2 separate regions of the Homo sapiens genome follow, and region 1 is linked to region 2. A link means that fine-mapping ties the variant in region 2 to the expression of a gene that starts in the linked region. Tissue or cell type: tibial nerve. Region 2 holds a variant in brackets; the other region holds the start of a gene. All regions are shown on one strand. Distances are from middle to middle.

Region 1 (8,101 bases), 46 kb after region 2:
GAAGCCCTGGATTCAGGCCCTGGCCCTGCTTCCTCCACCCCCAAACCATCACTGTGACCCTCATGGGTCCACTTCCCCCTCAGGCCTCAGTTTCCACTTTTGTAAAACAATGGCCCTGGCTCTGCTTCCTCCGCCCACAAACCATCACTGTGACCCTGATGGGTCTACTTCCCCCTCAGGCCTCAGTTTCCACTTTTGTAAAACGAAGGCATCAGACCAGTGATTTAAGCTCCAAACCTTCTGTCTGAATCCAGGCACCCTCCCACTCTACCCTGTCCAACCCCTGCCCAGCATGCTGGATCCACGGGCCCCTGAGTGTCTATGGTTTCAGAGTCAGAGGCCTTATCTCTACTCCTGTCTCCTGCTTTCATAGCTGTTGCCTTTGAGGATTCTGTCATCCCCATTTTACAGGTGGGGAGATGGAGGCATGAGGCATTGAAGCCAATTGCTCAAGGTCACAGAGGGTGATTTGAAATCCAGGGCTCCCTCCTCTGGGCCCAGGAGAGCCGCAGAACTTAAGGGCACCTTCTTTCAGGAGAATCGCCAAGATCTTAAGTGGCCAGCCGTTCTCTATACAGATGTGGACTCCACATGAGGCAAGGGGCTGCCCAAGGTCACAGAGCAAGGCACTGACAGACCAGGGTCCTGAACCAAGCCTCCCTGCCCCCAGGCTCCACCCAGACAGGGGGCTGGCAACATGACCTGACTTTCTGCCCTGGTCCTGGGATCTCCCCAAGACTGGAGCCCACGTCCTGCCTCTAGCCGCTGCCCCCAGAAGCCCCCGAGCATCTAGGGCTGAGATGGGAAGAGTGAGCAGGAAGACAGGAAAGAAAGTTGAGGGCTGGCCACTTGCCCCCGGCCCTCTGGCCCTCCCCTACTGCTCTCCTCGTGCAGGGGGAGCGGCGGCGGTGGTGATGTAATGCACTCGGCTTTCGTCCCGGTGCCAATCTCAGAAGAGAGACGACAGATTGCGTGAGCCAAATTTGGCATCCTAGGGGGAGAGGCATGAAAAGTGGAGATGTGGAGGAGCAGAGAGGAGCCTGGGGTGGTGCAGGAGGAGCCCCCTGCCCTACAGCCCCGAGGTGCCTCCCCTCCCTCCCCTCAGGGCCCCCATCTCTTCCCCAGCTAGCCTGGCCCTGGGGCCTCCCCTCCTCACTCTGAGGGGCCAGCCTGGCTTCTCCCCGGACCCCTTGAGCCCGGCACTGCCAGGCCTACCCGCCACCCCCACCCCACACTGCTCCAGCTCTGTTTCCCACCGCCGCTAGTTTCCTGGTTACCATGTTGCCGGTTGTCATGTCGCTTACATGTCCTCGTGACTCAGTGGTCCCCGCAGAGGGGCCCCCTCCTCCTCACACCCCCCTTAGCACTCGCCCCCGCCTCCCCCAGATCCACATTAAGAACCAGCCCGCCCTGTAAGCCTACACTGTTCCTCCTCCCCTTCCTTCTTATCCTAAGCTAAGACATCTTCTCACAGCATCTCCCAGAGCTACTTCATTCTCTCTTTCGCAAATGTCTACGAACCTACTATGCTCCAGGCTGGCGCACGCGGCTTTCACAGACCTGACACAGTCTGGAAACTGCTCAACACCCTGATGAAGTCAGTATCATCATACCTATTCTCCAGTTGAAGAAACTGAGGTTCAGAGAGGTCAAGCCACCCACCCAAGGTCACCCAGCAGAAACTCAACCAGCTCTGCCTGGTCACAGCCACTCCAGAGGATTTTCTGAGAGAAGAGCTTTCTTTTCAAGGATAACCCAAAGGGCCATGAGGAATTGTACCCCAGATTCCCCCTCTAATCCTGGACACTCCTCCTTCGTCAGCTATTTCCGCCATATTCCCACTGCCCCACGCCCACCTCCACCCACTAGCTGTTCATCTCTCTTAAGGTAAAGTGAGTCTTTACTCCCATCTCCCCAGTGCTTTCCCCAGCCTGTGAACAGCCCACTGCTCATTGAGCCCAGGGCCCGCCTTGGAGGTCACTGGGGCAGGGAGTGACGTCCCCATGCCACAGATGTGGAAGATGACGGTTGGGAGGAGAGTGACCAGCCCAGGGGGCTGCTCTCCCAGCCACCTGAGCTAATTTCTGGGAGGCTGAATGGAGGACATATGAGACCCACTGCCCAGTGTGGAACACCCCAGAAAGAGTCCCTCCTCCCAGTGAGAATGGAGTGGAATGTTCTAGGCTCAGCCCTTCCAACTCCAGTTGGGATATGGGTCAGTTCAGTGGCCAACAGTCTCTGTTCCCACCATGCTGCACCCATCTCTTACCCCAGCTGCCCTGGTCCACCTTTTGCTCCCCTCAGCACAGGCCAAGCCAGGGCCACAGTGAGGCTCTTGGGCCCCTAAAGTCCTGCTAACTGCCCCCAAAAGGCCTGAAGCCATGGAGGTCATGGGACTGGATGTGGGGGAGAACACACACACACACGGCTCCAACCCTTCTCTGGGCCTCCCTCCCTGAGTTCCCCACTTCCCCCAAACCTGCTGCTGAACATTCTACTGCTCTTGAGGCCCTGCTCTGTCAGCTGGCCAGGCTGCCCTGCCTCTAGCCCGCCGCTCCACCCCACCCAGCTTGCCACCTCCCAACTCCCTGCATCCTGTCCATCCTGAAGCAGGGACACTGGGGGCAGAAATGTGGGTAGGGGGCAGGGAGGCTGACACTGGTGGGGGGACATTTGGCAGGTTGCAGGGGAAGTTCTCCCTGCGGGAGGCTCATTGAGACCTCTCTTGCCTTGGGGTGCTCCCTACACACGGAGGAAAAAGCAGCCTCTGCCTCCCTCCCCAGCCTGTGTCTATCACTGTGAACGTGCAGTGCCTCCTCTACCAATCCCTGCCCCTGCGCCCTGGGGTCGTGTGGCGCCAAGTAGGTGCTCAAAACATGAGAAGTGAGATTTCGTTCTTCAGATCACAGGGCCATTTGCAACGAGGATGCAGCTGGGGAGGCGGAAAGGCGGCATCCCCCACCTTGCCACAAGTCACCTGCCTTGAAGCTCCCCGGCATGACAACTGGGGTGGGTGGAGGCAGGGAAAGGTCATGGCTGGGGCAGGAGGTCAAGACCCCTTCCACCCACCTCTCTCCCCCTTTCCAGGCCACAACCCAGACCGCGACGCTCCCAGACGGACAGACGGACAGAGCCCGCCCGTGGAGCCCGCCCGCTCCCGGGGAGTCACGGGACCGCGCGCGCGGCGCCGGGCAGCCGGGACCCGGCTCCGGATCAGGTGCGGAGCGGGCGGGGCCGGAGCGGCGGGCCCGGGACACACAGACACGCACGCGGCGGGACAAACTGACGGACAGCGCCCGGGGTGGGCGAGCGCGGCTTACCGCTGGGCGGAGGGTCCGACGAGAGTCCGGGAGGCGGCGAGCGGGCGCTACATCCCAAGGCGCGATCCGGCGGGCGGCGTCCCGGGCGCGGAAAGGGGAGTCCCGGCGCCCCCTGCCCGCGAACTCGGCCGGCCGGCCCGCGCTCCCCTCCCCGGCTGCCGCTCGGTCTGCGCGTGGGTCTTGGGGTCTCCGCGCGTCCCGGCCGTCCCGCGCCGCTCCCCGCGGGCCGCCCAACTTTCAGCGCTGCCCCGCGCCGCGCCCTCGGCGCCGCCTCGGCGTCAGCATCGTCGGGCCCGGCCGGGCTCACAGCGCGGGGGTCCGGGGGCCCGGGGCGCCCCGCCGCCCGCGCCCCCCACCCCCGCTGCAGGCGCCCTCCCCGCCGCCGTCCCCCGCTGCGCCCAGCTCCCTCGCTGTCACCCGCTCCTGCTCGCGCGCTCTGCCCCCGGCCCTGCGCTCCACTCCCGGCCCCGCTGCGCTCGGCCCCGGCCCCGCGACCCCTCGGCCTCCCGGCCTGGGGTCGCCCTCCCCGCCCCCGCCGGCCGGGCTCTGTCGCCACCTCCCCGACCGCTCTCGCGTCTCTCTCCTGCCGCCGGGGTCTCCGCCGCGCTCGCGTCCCGGTCCCTCTCCCGGCCTCCCTGCCTCCTGCGGCCCCGCTCGCCCTCTGCCCGCGGGGTCTCCGTCTCCGTCGCGGTCGCCCGCCGGCCTCCCCCCGCCTCCCTCTGCCCGCGCTGCCTCTCTCCCCTGCGCGTCTCTGTCCGTCTCCCTCGCGGCCCCTGTCCTTCTCTGTCTCTCCCCCTCCCACTCTCCGTGCGGCCCCCTCTGTCTCGGACCCCGGCCCCCGCCTTGGCCGCGTCCCCGGCTCGCCCGGGAGCCCGAGCTCCCGCCGCCCGCGGCGCGCCGAGAACTCCCAACTCGCGGCACGCCGCCCCGCTTTGCGAGACTTTCGCCCCTCCTCACACGTGACCCGCGCCCCACTGCGGAGGCCGCGCGCCCCCCAGCCCGGGAGCCCCGGCTGCCCGCGGGACCCCGCCCTGCCCGCCCCTCGGCCTAACCCGGCCTCAAGCCCCCTCCCGCGGGGCCCGCGGCGCGGAGCAGGGGCTGGGGCGGGGGGCTGCTGGCCCCGCTCCTGCCCTGGATCCTGCCCGGGTTTTCCTCCTCGCCCCAGGAGCGCTCCTCCCAGAACCCGTTCCTGGATCCGCTCCCGGGTTTTGTGCCCCCCCCCCAAAAGGGGGCAGGTGGAGAGGGTTCCTCCGAGCCGGGAAGGGGGGTGGGTGGGAGCTGGTCCCTCTGGGGTCCCACGGAGTCCGCCCCTCTCCTTAGCGGTCCTCGTACTCTCCCAAAGTACCGCCGGTCAAGGACCCGAAGCACCTCACTCTGGGAGTCTGAGGGGGCCCTATTGGAGGGACCCTCGCGATCACTCAGTCACCACTGCCCCATTTTACAGATGGCGAGACTGGGTACCAGAGAGGGTCAGAAACTCGGCCAAGGTCACCCAGAGATGACAAAGCCAGGCCAAACCCTAGTCTCTTATTCTCTGTCGCTCTCCATTACCCCAAGCTGTCAGGCCTGGGCCCCACACTCTGGGGTGTCAGGGAACCCCCAGCACCCACAGCACCTGTCTAGCCAGCTACATCCTGACCATCCTGCCACGTCACTCTAGCCCTCCGAGGAGACAGGAGGGAAAGTGCTCCTCCTTCCAGGGTGGTAGGACGAGAGAACACCTGCAGTTAGACAGCCAGCAAAACTTCCCTGGGAGTCTGGCCATCACCGACTAGCCCCATTACAGAGAGGGAGAGACCGAGGCACCCCAAAGCCAGGTGGAGAACTGATGAAATCTGAAATCCCCTCTGGCTCTCCTGAGCCTCGAGGATGTCAGCATAAGAACAGCAACACACAAACCACCACAAGTGTTTCCCTTCCTCGTGGGCTCTCCCTACTCAAAAGGATTCAGTCCCAACTCCTCAGTGTGGTATAGTCAGGCCCCACCTTATCCGGCATCCCACATCCCATAAATCCACAGGTACACCCTGATTCCACAGATTCCAGAACACGCCACAGGCCTCCACACCTCTCTGCCTGCACGCACTGTTCCTCCTCACTAAGATATCCTTCCACCTTTTTTGCCCAGAGAATTCCTGCTGTTCCCCAAGCCCAGCCTCAGTGCCACTTCCTTGAGAAGGCCTCCTGATGACCCCAGCAGAAGTCATTTATCACCCACTCATTCATTCAACCAGCACTAGGCACCCACCACATACCAGCCCCTGGGCGGGGCACAAGTATGGTTCTTGCTTAGTGGGATGAGGAGTCAGGCTAACCTAGGCTCAAAAGCACCTAGGAGCTACTTGACCTTGAACAAGTTTTTATTTAATCTGTCTGTAAATTGAGGACCCTAACGTCCTCCATTCCCAAGGGGTAGATTAAGTGAGGTGGATGCACAAGAAATACACAGATCATGGTAGGCGCTCAATAAATGTGGCCATCCTTTCTCACGGCTCTCTCCGACTGTGCAGACCTCCAGAACGCACGTCCTGTTCCACGCCTCTCCCTGGTTACCCTGCTGTGTCCTCACAGGCAGACAGCCAGGACTGATGTTCCATCACATGAATGCTCAGTGCGTGGATGCAGGGGAGACTCAAGCAGCCTGAGTGCCCTGTGGGCAAGAGATGTGTGCCTGGTCTTTTTCACCTTTTCTGTGGATGGAAAGTGGGAGGATGAGGGTGAGACAAATGACCTGCCTGGCCACGGGCCTGACCTGGTAGCCATCCTGGGAGTGTGGGGTGCAGGGAGAGGAGGAAGGGGCAGGAAGGAGGGGAAAATGCAGACAGAGATGTCTGTAGATCCAAAGCATCTACTGTCACAGAATCAGTCTCCTGATGCCAAGTCCCTGGGCACAAACTTGAAGATGGGATGGGGGCTCTGGGGCAAGGAGGGTTAGCTTGCCGGGCCTGGGCCGCACCCTGGGGCTGCTGTTCATCCTGCAAGGAGACTGGACTGGGAGGAGGTAGGGAGAGGCAAGCAGAGGAGCTCCAGGCAGGGAGAGGTTCGGAGGCCCCAGGAAAGAGCCCTTTCTCTCCTCTCCAGCCCTGTGTGACCCTGGGCAGCTCAACTCTCCTCTCTGGGCCTTTGTTTCCTCATATGTAAAATGAGAACTATAATACCCACTTTGAGCTTCGGGGTGTGTGTGTGTGTGTGTGTGTGTGTGTGTGTGTGTGTGTGTGTGTTTGTTGTTGTTGCTGTTTTTAGATAGGATCTGGCTCTGTTGCCCAGGCTGGAGTGCAGTGGCGCAATCTCAGCTCACTGCAACCTCCGCCTCCTGGGCTTAAGCCATCCTCCTACCTCAGCCTCCCGAGTAGCTGGGACCACAGGCATGTGCCACCATGCCAGGCTAATTTTTGTATTTTTTGTAGAGATGGGGTTTTGTCATGTTGTCCAGGCTAGTCTCAAACTCTTGAGTTCAAGCGATCCACCTTCCTTGGCCTCCCAAAGTGCTAGGATTACAGGTGTGAACCACCGCACGTGGTCGAGCAGCTGTTTTGAGGATAATCAAAGACTAAAGGAAGACTTCACATTGTTCACCTTCCGTGTGAGTAGCCTCTAGCCCTGTGTGAGGTTGGGGGCAGAGATGGAAATGGGCATGCAGAGGCCTGGGGGCAGTGTGAGGGAGTTGAGAAAAGTCTTGGGTGTCAGAACCTGTGTGACCCTGGGCAAGATGCGTGTCCTCTCTGGACCTCAGAGGCCTCGTCTGTAGTGGGACAGTGTGGACTAGGTCTCCCAAGGGTAAGTGGGCTTTGTCATGATCCACCACAGATGCGCCCCCCCACCAGACGGAATGAGGACAACCTGCTTCCCCTGCACTCGTACCCCTAGCTCAGCACTATCCAGACCTTCGCAGGGATTGTCTCCTTTGATTCTTGCAAGAATTCTCCAGGCACCTGTTACCAATGGGGAAACTGAGGCACGGGCAGTAATGCCATGAGTGGCAGGGCCGGTGTGGCCAGGAACAATGGTCTGGAGGAAGGAGGTTCGCTCTGAAGTTTGGAGGAGAATGCTTGTAAAACCTCTGTCCACCATACACTTTGGTAAAACGTCCTGGCCATCTCCATTCTCCATTCTCTCCTTTGATCCTCACAAGATCTCCGTGGGGTACGGGCTATGCCTGTCTTTACCTCACAGGTGAGGACTCTGAACTGACACACAGAGAGGGGAAGTGGCTTGTCTGGGGTCAGGCAGTAAGCAACTGTCTGGGCCAGGATTTGAACCAGGCTCAACTTCCACTTTCTGGGGAAAGGTCATTCCAGGCTAGCAGAGCACTCACTAACCGATTTACTGTGGGGTCCTGCTCACACCTCCTGGGTCCTACAGGGGCCCTGAGAGCCTGTGTAGAGGGCTGAGAGGAGTGGAAGGGAGGGCAACTTGGGCCAGGCAGGTGGACAGCTGGGGAGGAGACGGAAAAGGCCACTTCAAAATGCTAGAGTCACAGAGGCCAGAGGTTTTTGTCCTAGAGAGTGTCTTAAAGTTCAGCCAGGGCCGGGCGCGGTGGCTCACGCCTGTAATCCCAGCACTTTGTGAGGCCGAGGCGGGCAGATCACTTGAGGTCAGGTGTTTGAGGCCAGCCTGGCTAACATGGTGAAACCTCGACTCTACTAAAAATACAAAAATTAGCCAGGCACTGTGGTGCGCATCTGTAATCCAAGCTACTCGGGAGGCGAAGGCAGGAGAATCACTTGAACCCGGGAGGCAGAGGTTGCAGTGAGCTGAGATCGCGCCACTGCACTCCAGCC
Region 2 (8,101 bases):
AAAAAAACACAACACTAAAACCATCCAGGAATATTTGGGTAAAATATAAGTCTCCTCCTTGAATGCACCTGTCCCCCAATAACACTTTTTTTTTTTTTTTTTTGAGACAGAGTCTTGTTCTGTGGCCCAGGCTGGAGTGCAATGGCACGATCTCGGTTCTCTGCAAACTCCGCCTCCTGGGTTCAAGCGATTCTCCTCTCTCAGCCTCCTGAGTAGCTGAGATTACAGGCACCCGCCACCACCCCTGGCTAATTTTTGTATTTTTAGTAGAGATGGGGTTTCACCATGTTGGTCAGGCTGGTCTCAAACTCCTGATCTCGTGATCCGTCCACCTTGGCCTTCCTAAGTGCTGGGATGACAGGCGTGAGCCACCGCGTCCGGCCTCCCAATAACACTTTCTAGGAAGAGCCACAGTGAACAGTCTGGGGTCTCCTTCCAGAACTATTGACCTACAGACATGATATATTCAAATATATAGACATAATTTTTATTGTAAGATATACATGCAAAAGACATACAATTTTAAAAAAATAGAGATACCATGTACTCATCACCCATAAAAACTGCTAACACCTGAATTATACCCCTGTATGTCTCTATGCCTGCACCTCCTCTTTTCTCTCTATTTATTTCTGAGACAGAATTTCATTCTTGTTGCCCAGACTGGAGTGCAATGGCGTGATCTCAGCTCACTGCAACCTCCGCCTCCCGGGTTCAAGCAATTCTCCTGCCTCAGCCTCCCAAGTAGCTGGGAATACAGGTGCCCGCCACCACGCCTGGCTAATTTTTTGTATTTTTAGTAGAGATAGGGTTTCACCATGTTGGTCAGGCTGGTCTCCAACTCCTGATCTCAGGTGATCCACCCGCCTCAGCCTCTCAAAGTGCTGGGATTATAGGTGTGAGCCACCATGCCCAGCTGTATTTCTCTTTTTTCTTACTATTAGCCACATATATGTTCCTTAAGTAATAAGTGTAAGATGAGAATTGCTCAATTATTGTGTGTGCAACATGTTCAACTTTATTAGGCAAGGCTAAACTATTTTTGCAGGAGATTGAACCAGTTCATACTCCCGCCCAAAGCAGATGAGAGTCCTCACTGATTCATTTCCTTGCCAAATCTGAAACCGTTCAATTTCATAATATCTGCCAAGCCAGTGAGAGTAAAATCCCAACCCACTGCGGCTTTAATTTACATTTCCCTTATTACTAATGATATTGAATATCTGTCTTGTTTATATCTTCTTTTTTTTTTTTTCTTTGATGGAGTTTCGCTCTTGTTGCCCAGGCTGGAGTGCAATGGCATGATCTCAGCTCACCACAACCTCCGCCTCCCGGGTTCAAACTATTCTCCTACCTCAGCCTCCCAGGTAGCTGGGATTATAGGCATGCACTACCATGCCGGTTAATTTTGTATTTTTAGTAGAGACAGGGTTTCTCCATGTTGGCCAGGCTGGTCTTGAACTCCCCACCTCAGGTGATCCGCATGCCTCAGCCTCCCAAAGTGTTAGGATTACAGGCGTGAGTCACCACACCTGGCCCCTGTTTATATTTTCTATATCCTTAGTGATTCTTTCATCTTTTTGATGTGTCAGTCACTGAATGTTTGTCATAAAATCTCTAATTATATTGGCACCAGCATTATCGAAAGAAAGGAAAAAAAACTCTGTTTAGAATAATGGATTTGTTAGCTTCTCCTTGATTTGCTTTATATAGTTTGAGGTTGTGTTATCAGGTGTATAAGAGTTCAGAATTGTTTTTATCTTCCTGGAGTTATATACTCCTTCTTTGTTTCTAATAATACTTTTGCCTTGAAGCCTAGTTTGTCTGTTATTAATACAATGAAAAATCTTTTGGTTTTAATCTTTTTTTTTTTTTGAGATGGAGTTTCGCTCTTGTTGCCTGGGCTGGAGTGCAGTGGCGCGATCTCAGCTCACCGCAACCTCTGCCTCCCGGGTTCAAGCGATTCTCCTGCCTCAGCCTCCCAAGTAGCTGAGATTACAGGCATGCGCCACCACACCCAGCTAATTTTGTATTTTTTTAGTAGAGACGGGGCTTCTCTGTGTTGGTCAGGCTGGTCTCAAACTCCTGACCTCAGGTGATCTGCCTGCCTCAGCCTCCCAAAGTGCTGGGATTACAGGCGTGAGCCACTGCGCCCGGCCCTCACCTCGGCCTTTCAAAGGGCTGGGATTACAAACGTGAGCCACCGTGCCTGGCCTCAATGTCTCTTAAATCTCATTCAATCTATAGGTTCCTACTCTATCTCTTCTATTTTCCTTGCAATTTGTTAGTTGGGGAAACCAGGTCATTTGTCCTTCATATAAAATATTTTGTTTAATGAAATTATATAGATAATGATCTTTAGAAATACATCTTGGATATAACAAGTGTTGGAGAGGACGTGAAGAAAAGGGAATCCTTGCATATGGTTGGTGGGAATGTAAATTAGTATAGCCATTATGGAAAACAGTATGGAGGTTCCTCAAAAACAAAATAAAAATAGAACTACCATATGATCCAGCAATCCCACTACTGGGTGTGTATCCAAAGGAAATGAAATCAGTATGTCAAAAAGACATCTGCACCCCATGCTCATTGCAGTTTTATTCACAATAGCCAAGCTGTGGAAACAACTGAAAATGTCCATCGGTGGATGAATGGATCAAGGAAATGTGGTATATATACACCATGGAATACTATTCAGCCTAAAAAAAGAGACAGTCCTGTCACTGTCAGCACCGTGAACGAACCTAGAGGACATTATGTTAAGCGCAATAACACAGGCACAGAAAGACAAGTACGCGTGATTTCACTTAAACTATGGAATCTAAACAAGTTGAACTCAGCCGGGCACAGTGGCTCTCACCTGTAATCCCAGCACTTTGGGAGGCCGAGGCAGGCAGATCACCTGAGGTCAGGAGTTTGAGACCAGCCTGACCAACATGGAGAAACCCTGTCTCTACCAAAAATACAAAAAATTAGCTGGGTGTGGTGGTGCACGCCTGTAATCCCAGCTACTCAGGAGGCTGAGGCGGGAGAATCACTTGAACCCGGGAGGCAGAGGTTGCAGTGAGCCGAGATGGCGCCATTGCACTCCAGCCTGGGTAACAAGAGCGAAACTCCGTCTCAAAAAAAAAAGTTGGACTCACAGAAGCAGAGAGGAGAACGGTGGTTGTGCTGAGGCTGGCAGAGGGAGTGGGGGTGTTGGGAGATGTTGGTCAAAGGATACAAAATTTCAGTTAGATGGGAGGAATAAGTACAAGAGATCCATTGTACATGGTGACCACAGTTAATAACAATGTATTGTATTCTTGAAAATTGCTGAGAGTACATTTTAAGTGTTCTCACCATAAAACAATAAGTATGTGGTGACACCTACATTACTTAGCTTGATTTAGCCATTCCACAGTGCATACATAATTCAAAACAACATGTTGTGTACAATAACTACAATTTTTATGTTAATTTTTAAAATAAAAAATTTTAATGATTTTAAAAATAAGTATATAAAATATATTTTATTTTATTATTATACTATATGTTAATTTCCTTGTGTATATATAGCTCTCAAACTCTGGAGCTCAAGCAGTCCTCCTCCTCAACCTAAAGTACTGGGATTACAGGCCTGAGCCACTGCACCTGGCCTACAGTTATTATTATTATTATTATTATTTCTTTTTTCAGTATTTATTGATCATTCTTGGGTGTTTCTCGCAGAGGGGGATTTGGCAGGGTCATAGGACAATAGTGGAGGGAAGGTCAGCAGATAAACATGTGAACAAGGGTCTCTGGTTTTCCTAGACAGAGGACCCTTTGGCCTTCCGCAGTGTTTGTGTCCCTGGGTACTTGAGATTAGGGAGTGGTGATGACTCTTAACGAGCATGCTGCCTTCAAGCATCTGTTTAACAAAGCACATCGTGCACCGCCCTTAATCCATTTAACCCTGAGTGGACACAGCACATGTTTCAGAGAGCACGGGGTTGGGGGTAAGGTTATAGATCAACAGCATCCCAAGGCAGAAGAATTTTTCTTAGTACAGAACAAAATGGAGTCTCCCATGTCTACTTCTTTCTACACAGACACAGTAACAATCTGATCTCTCTTTCTTTTCCCCACATTTCCCCCTTTTCTATTCGACAAAACCGCCATCGTCATCATGGCCCGTTCTCAATGAGCTGTTGGGTACACCTCCCAGACGCGGTGGCGGCCGGGCAGAGGGGCTCCTCACTTCCCAGACGGGGCGGCCGGGCAGAGGCGCCCCTCACCTCCCAAACGGGGCAGTGGCCGGGCGGAGGCGCCCCCCACCTCCCTCCCGGACGGGGCGGCTGGCCGGACGGGGGCTGACCCCCCACCTCCCTCCCGGACGGGGCGGCTGCCGGGCAGAGACGCTCCTCACCTCCCAGATGGGGTGGCAGTCGGGCAGAGACACTCCTCAGTTCCCAGACGGGGTCGCGGCCGGGCAGAGGCGCTCCTCACATCCCAGACGGGGCAGCGGGGCAGAGGAGCTCCTCACATCCCACACAATGGGCGGCCAGGCAGAGACGCTCCTCACTTCCCAGACGGGGTGGCGGCCGGGCAGAGGCTGCAATCTCGGCACTTTGGGAGGCCAAGGCAGGCGGCTGGGAGGTGGAGGTTGTAGCGAGCC[G/A]AGATCACGCCACTGCACTCCAGCCTGGGCAACATTGAGCACTGAGTGAGCGAGACTCCGTCTGCAATCCCGGCACCTCGGGAGGCCGAGGCAGGCAGATCACTCGCGGTCAGGAGCTGGAGACCAGCCCGGCCAACGCGGTGAAACCCCGTCTCCACCAAAAAATGCAAAAACCAGTCAGGTGTGGCAGCGCGTGCCTGCAATCCCAGGCACTCTGCAGGCTGAGGCAGGAGAATCAGGCAGGGAGGTTGCAGTGAGCCGAGATGGCGGCAGTACAGTCCAGCCTCGGCTTTCACAACTTTGGTGGCATCAGAGGGAGACCGGGGAGAAGGGGAGGGGGAGGGAGAGGGACCAGTTATTATTTTTTAAAATGTCTTCTCGGCCAAGCACGGTGGCTCAAGTCTGTAATCCCAGCACTTTGGGAGGCCGAGACAGGTGGATTGCTTGAGCCTTGGGAGTTTGAGACCAGCCTGGGCAACATAGCAAGACTCTGTCTCTACAAAAAAATACAAAAATTAACTGTGTGTGGTGGTGTGTGCCTGCAGTCCCAGCTACTCTGGAGGCTGAGGTGGGAGGATCATCTGAGCCCAGGGAGGTTGAGGCTGCAGTGAGCCGTGATTGGACAACTGCACTCTGGTCTGGGTGACAGAGTGAGACCCAGTCTCAAAAAAAAAAAAAAAAGTCTTCTCTCCCCTACTTACCTACTATGAGTATAGATGAGGCAATTTACTTGACAAATATTTAATGAGCACCCCACTATGTGCTGGGCCCCATGCCAGATCCTGAGAAATATAACGGTGAACAGGCCCGACATATTCCTGGAGCTTCAATCTGAGATTTGGTAGTTTGCAGAATCCTGAAGAGAGCTTATTAAAATGCAGGTCCCAGGACCCATCTCACACAGGATGTCAGGGGTGTGAGGTGGGGACCAGGAGTGGGCACCTTTTGCCAATTGAGTCTAGCCCTGTCCTACAATATGTAAGCCACAAAATGATCCACATCACATCAATTTAAATTTTCCAGCAATTACATTAAAAAGTAAAAAGAAGGCCGGGCATGGTGGCTCGGCTCACGCCTGTAATCCCAGCACTTTGGGAGGCTGAGGCAGGCAGATCACCTGAGGTCGGGAGTTCGAGACCAGCCTGACCAACATGGAGAAACCCTGTCTCTACTAAAAATACAAAAATTAGCTGGACGTGGTGGTGCATGCCTGTAATCCCAGCTACTCGGGAGGCTGAAGCAGGAGAATCACTTGAACCCGGGAGGCAGAAGTTGCAGTGAGCGCTATTGCACTCCAGCCTGGGCAATAAGAGAGAAACTCCGTCTCAAAAAAAAAAAAAAAAAAAAAGTAAAAAGAAGGCTAGACACGGAGGCTCATGCCTGTAATCCCAGCACTTCGGGAGGTCAAGGCAGGAGGATCGCTTGAGGCCAGGAGTTGGAGACTAGCCTGGCCAACATGGTGAAACTCGTCTCTACTAAAAATACAAAAAATTAGCCAGGCGTGGTGGTGGGTGCCTGTAATCCCAGCTACTCAGGAGGCTGAGGGAGGAGAATGGCTTGAACCTGGGAGGCCGAGGTTGCAGTGAGCAGAGATCGCGCCACTGCACTCCAGCCTGGGCTACAGAGAGACTTCATCTAAAACAAAAAACAAAAAACAAAAAACGATAATTTAAAGATAGTTTGCAATCTTTCTTTCTTTCTCTTTTTTTTTTTTTTTTTTTGAGGCAGTCTCGCTCTGTTGCCAGGCTGGAGTGCAATGGCGCGATCTTGGGTCACTGCAACCTCCGCCTCCCGGGTTCAAGCGATTCTCCTGCCTCAGGCTCCCAAGTAGCTGAGATTACAGGCGCCCGCCACTGCGCCCGGCTAATTTTTGTATTTTAGTAGAGACGGGGTTTCACTATGTTGGTCAGGCTGGTCTCGAACTCCTGACCTCAGGTGATCCGCCCACCTCAGCCTCCCAAAGTGCTGAGATTACAGGCGTGAGCCACCACGCCCGGCCTGCAATCTTTCTTACTACAAAGTCTTTGAAATCCGGTGTGTATCTTACATTCACAGCACACCTCAGTTACACCAGCCACATTTCAAGTGCGCAGTGTGACTCGGGGCTACTGTGTTGGACAGCGCAGCCCGGAGGCTGATCCGGGTAGCCCGGGGGCCACGCTGGGAGCAGCGCAGGGCTGGATCGTGTCTGTGAAACTCACTTTGCAGACTCCGGTGCTCCAAACAAAATGAGGGAACAAAGTCATACCCGGACTCCAATTCTGCCTCCCACTCCTGGCTGTCTGCCCCAAGGTCCTTCCGCCCCGTCCTGGCCACGTGACCTTGGGAGTCCCTTCGCCTCCAGAGCCTTGACCTGTACACCTGAGAAATGGGCGTGGTGACTCCTGCTGGCAGCAGCAGTGGTGCGCGTGGGGACACGCGTGCGGGGAGTCAGGCGCCCCCGGGTGCTCGCGGCAGGAAGGAGTGAAGCCTGCGGGCGGGTGTGGGGGCAAGAACTGAAGCCGGGGGAACCAGACGGGCTCCGGGTGCGGGGGCTCCGCTGGGGCCACGCCAGTCCGCCTGCAGCAGCCGGCAGCTCCGGAGGCGGCCACCGGGCGGCGCTGTGGAGCAGGGACCCCGGGGCCCGCAGGGGCCCGCGGAGGAGTGAGAATAATTAGTAACAGCCCCTGTCTGGGGTGCACTTCCCGGGGGAGGGGAGAATGAGGTCACTCTGGTCCTTCTGTGACAGGAGGGAAAACAGGCGAAGAAGCCCATCCCCCCAACCAACCCCCCCTAATTCAAGTCGGCCAACACTGCGGCCATGGGAGGATCCGGGTTTGGAGTCGGGGGCTCTGGGTGAGGTCCTGATTCTGACCTCTGAGGGACCTCGGGCTGCTCGGCCTGGTCTCCCACCTGTAGACGGGGACACCTGTGCCTCCCTGCAGATGCCGGCTGCAAAGGGGCGTTGCCAACTGTCTGGTGCCGAGCCAGAGTCAGTGCGTGCCTGGGATTGAGAGGCGAACTTTGAGAGATGAGGATAAAAATAACAGCTGCCGATGCTGAGCTAAATGCCTACTCTTCTTTATACTCTCTTAACAGCCGGTGAGGTTGGTATGACTGTTGCCCCCATCTGACAGATGGGGTAGCTGGGCCTCCAAGGTCTGGTGTGGCCTTACCTGGCCCAGCAGAGCGGGACCCTGATTCCAGGGTTCTGTGCTGCCTTGTGACCAGACCTTGGCTTAGACGGGTTCGGATGAACCTTCTCCTGCACACACCCCCACCCATGGCTTTTTCCTCCCTCCCCTCCTGGGCTCTCAGACCCTCTGGCCTTCCCTCCCCTCCCCAAAGGCTGCCAGGGCCCACAGCCAGGACCCCCAGTCTCCCCATTAAGATCAGAAGCCTCTCCATGCCCACAGCTCAGGCCTAGCCAGTGAGAGTGGTCCTCTGGCCGTAATAGTGGTTTCAAGACAGGCATGGGAC

Alleles and levels. Alleles are on the strand shown, and positions count from the first base shown. SD is a standard deviation of normalised expression in the study named.
For the expression in tibial nerve of the gene that starts at base 3,540 in region 1, allele G in region 2 goes with a lower level than allele A (moderate effect, 0.65 SD a copy in GTEx).

The links. PIP is the estimated chance that this variant, and not a neighbour inherited with it, causes the effect.
Region 1: KCNJ4 starts here. The variant in region 2 is fine-mapped to the expression of KCNJ4 in tibial nerve (GTEx, PIP 0.97).

Annotation. Positions count from the first base shown.
Region 1 is chr22:38,451,660-38,459,760 of GRCh38, forward strand. KCNJ4 (potassium inwardly rectifying channel subfamily J member 4) reads right to left here and starts at 3,540. Exons shown (of 2, transcript NM_152868.3): 1 at 3,321-3,540. LOC124905116 (a long non-coding RNA gene) reads right to left here. Exons shown (of 2, transcript XR_007068096.1): 2 at 5,663-6,010. RefSeq lists enhancers at 198-817, 818-1,436.
Region 2 is chr22:38,405,733-38,413,833 of GRCh38, forward strand. It overlaps LOC105373030 (a long non-coding RNA gene), which reads right to left. Exons shown (of 5, transcript XR_938254.4): 5 at 4,624-4,666. Among named protein-coding and RNA genes, the nearest start is that of TPTEP2-CSNK1E, 11 kb to the left of the region's middle. RefSeq lists a silencer at 7,125-7,324. The variant G/A (reference allele first, on the strand shown) is at 4,643.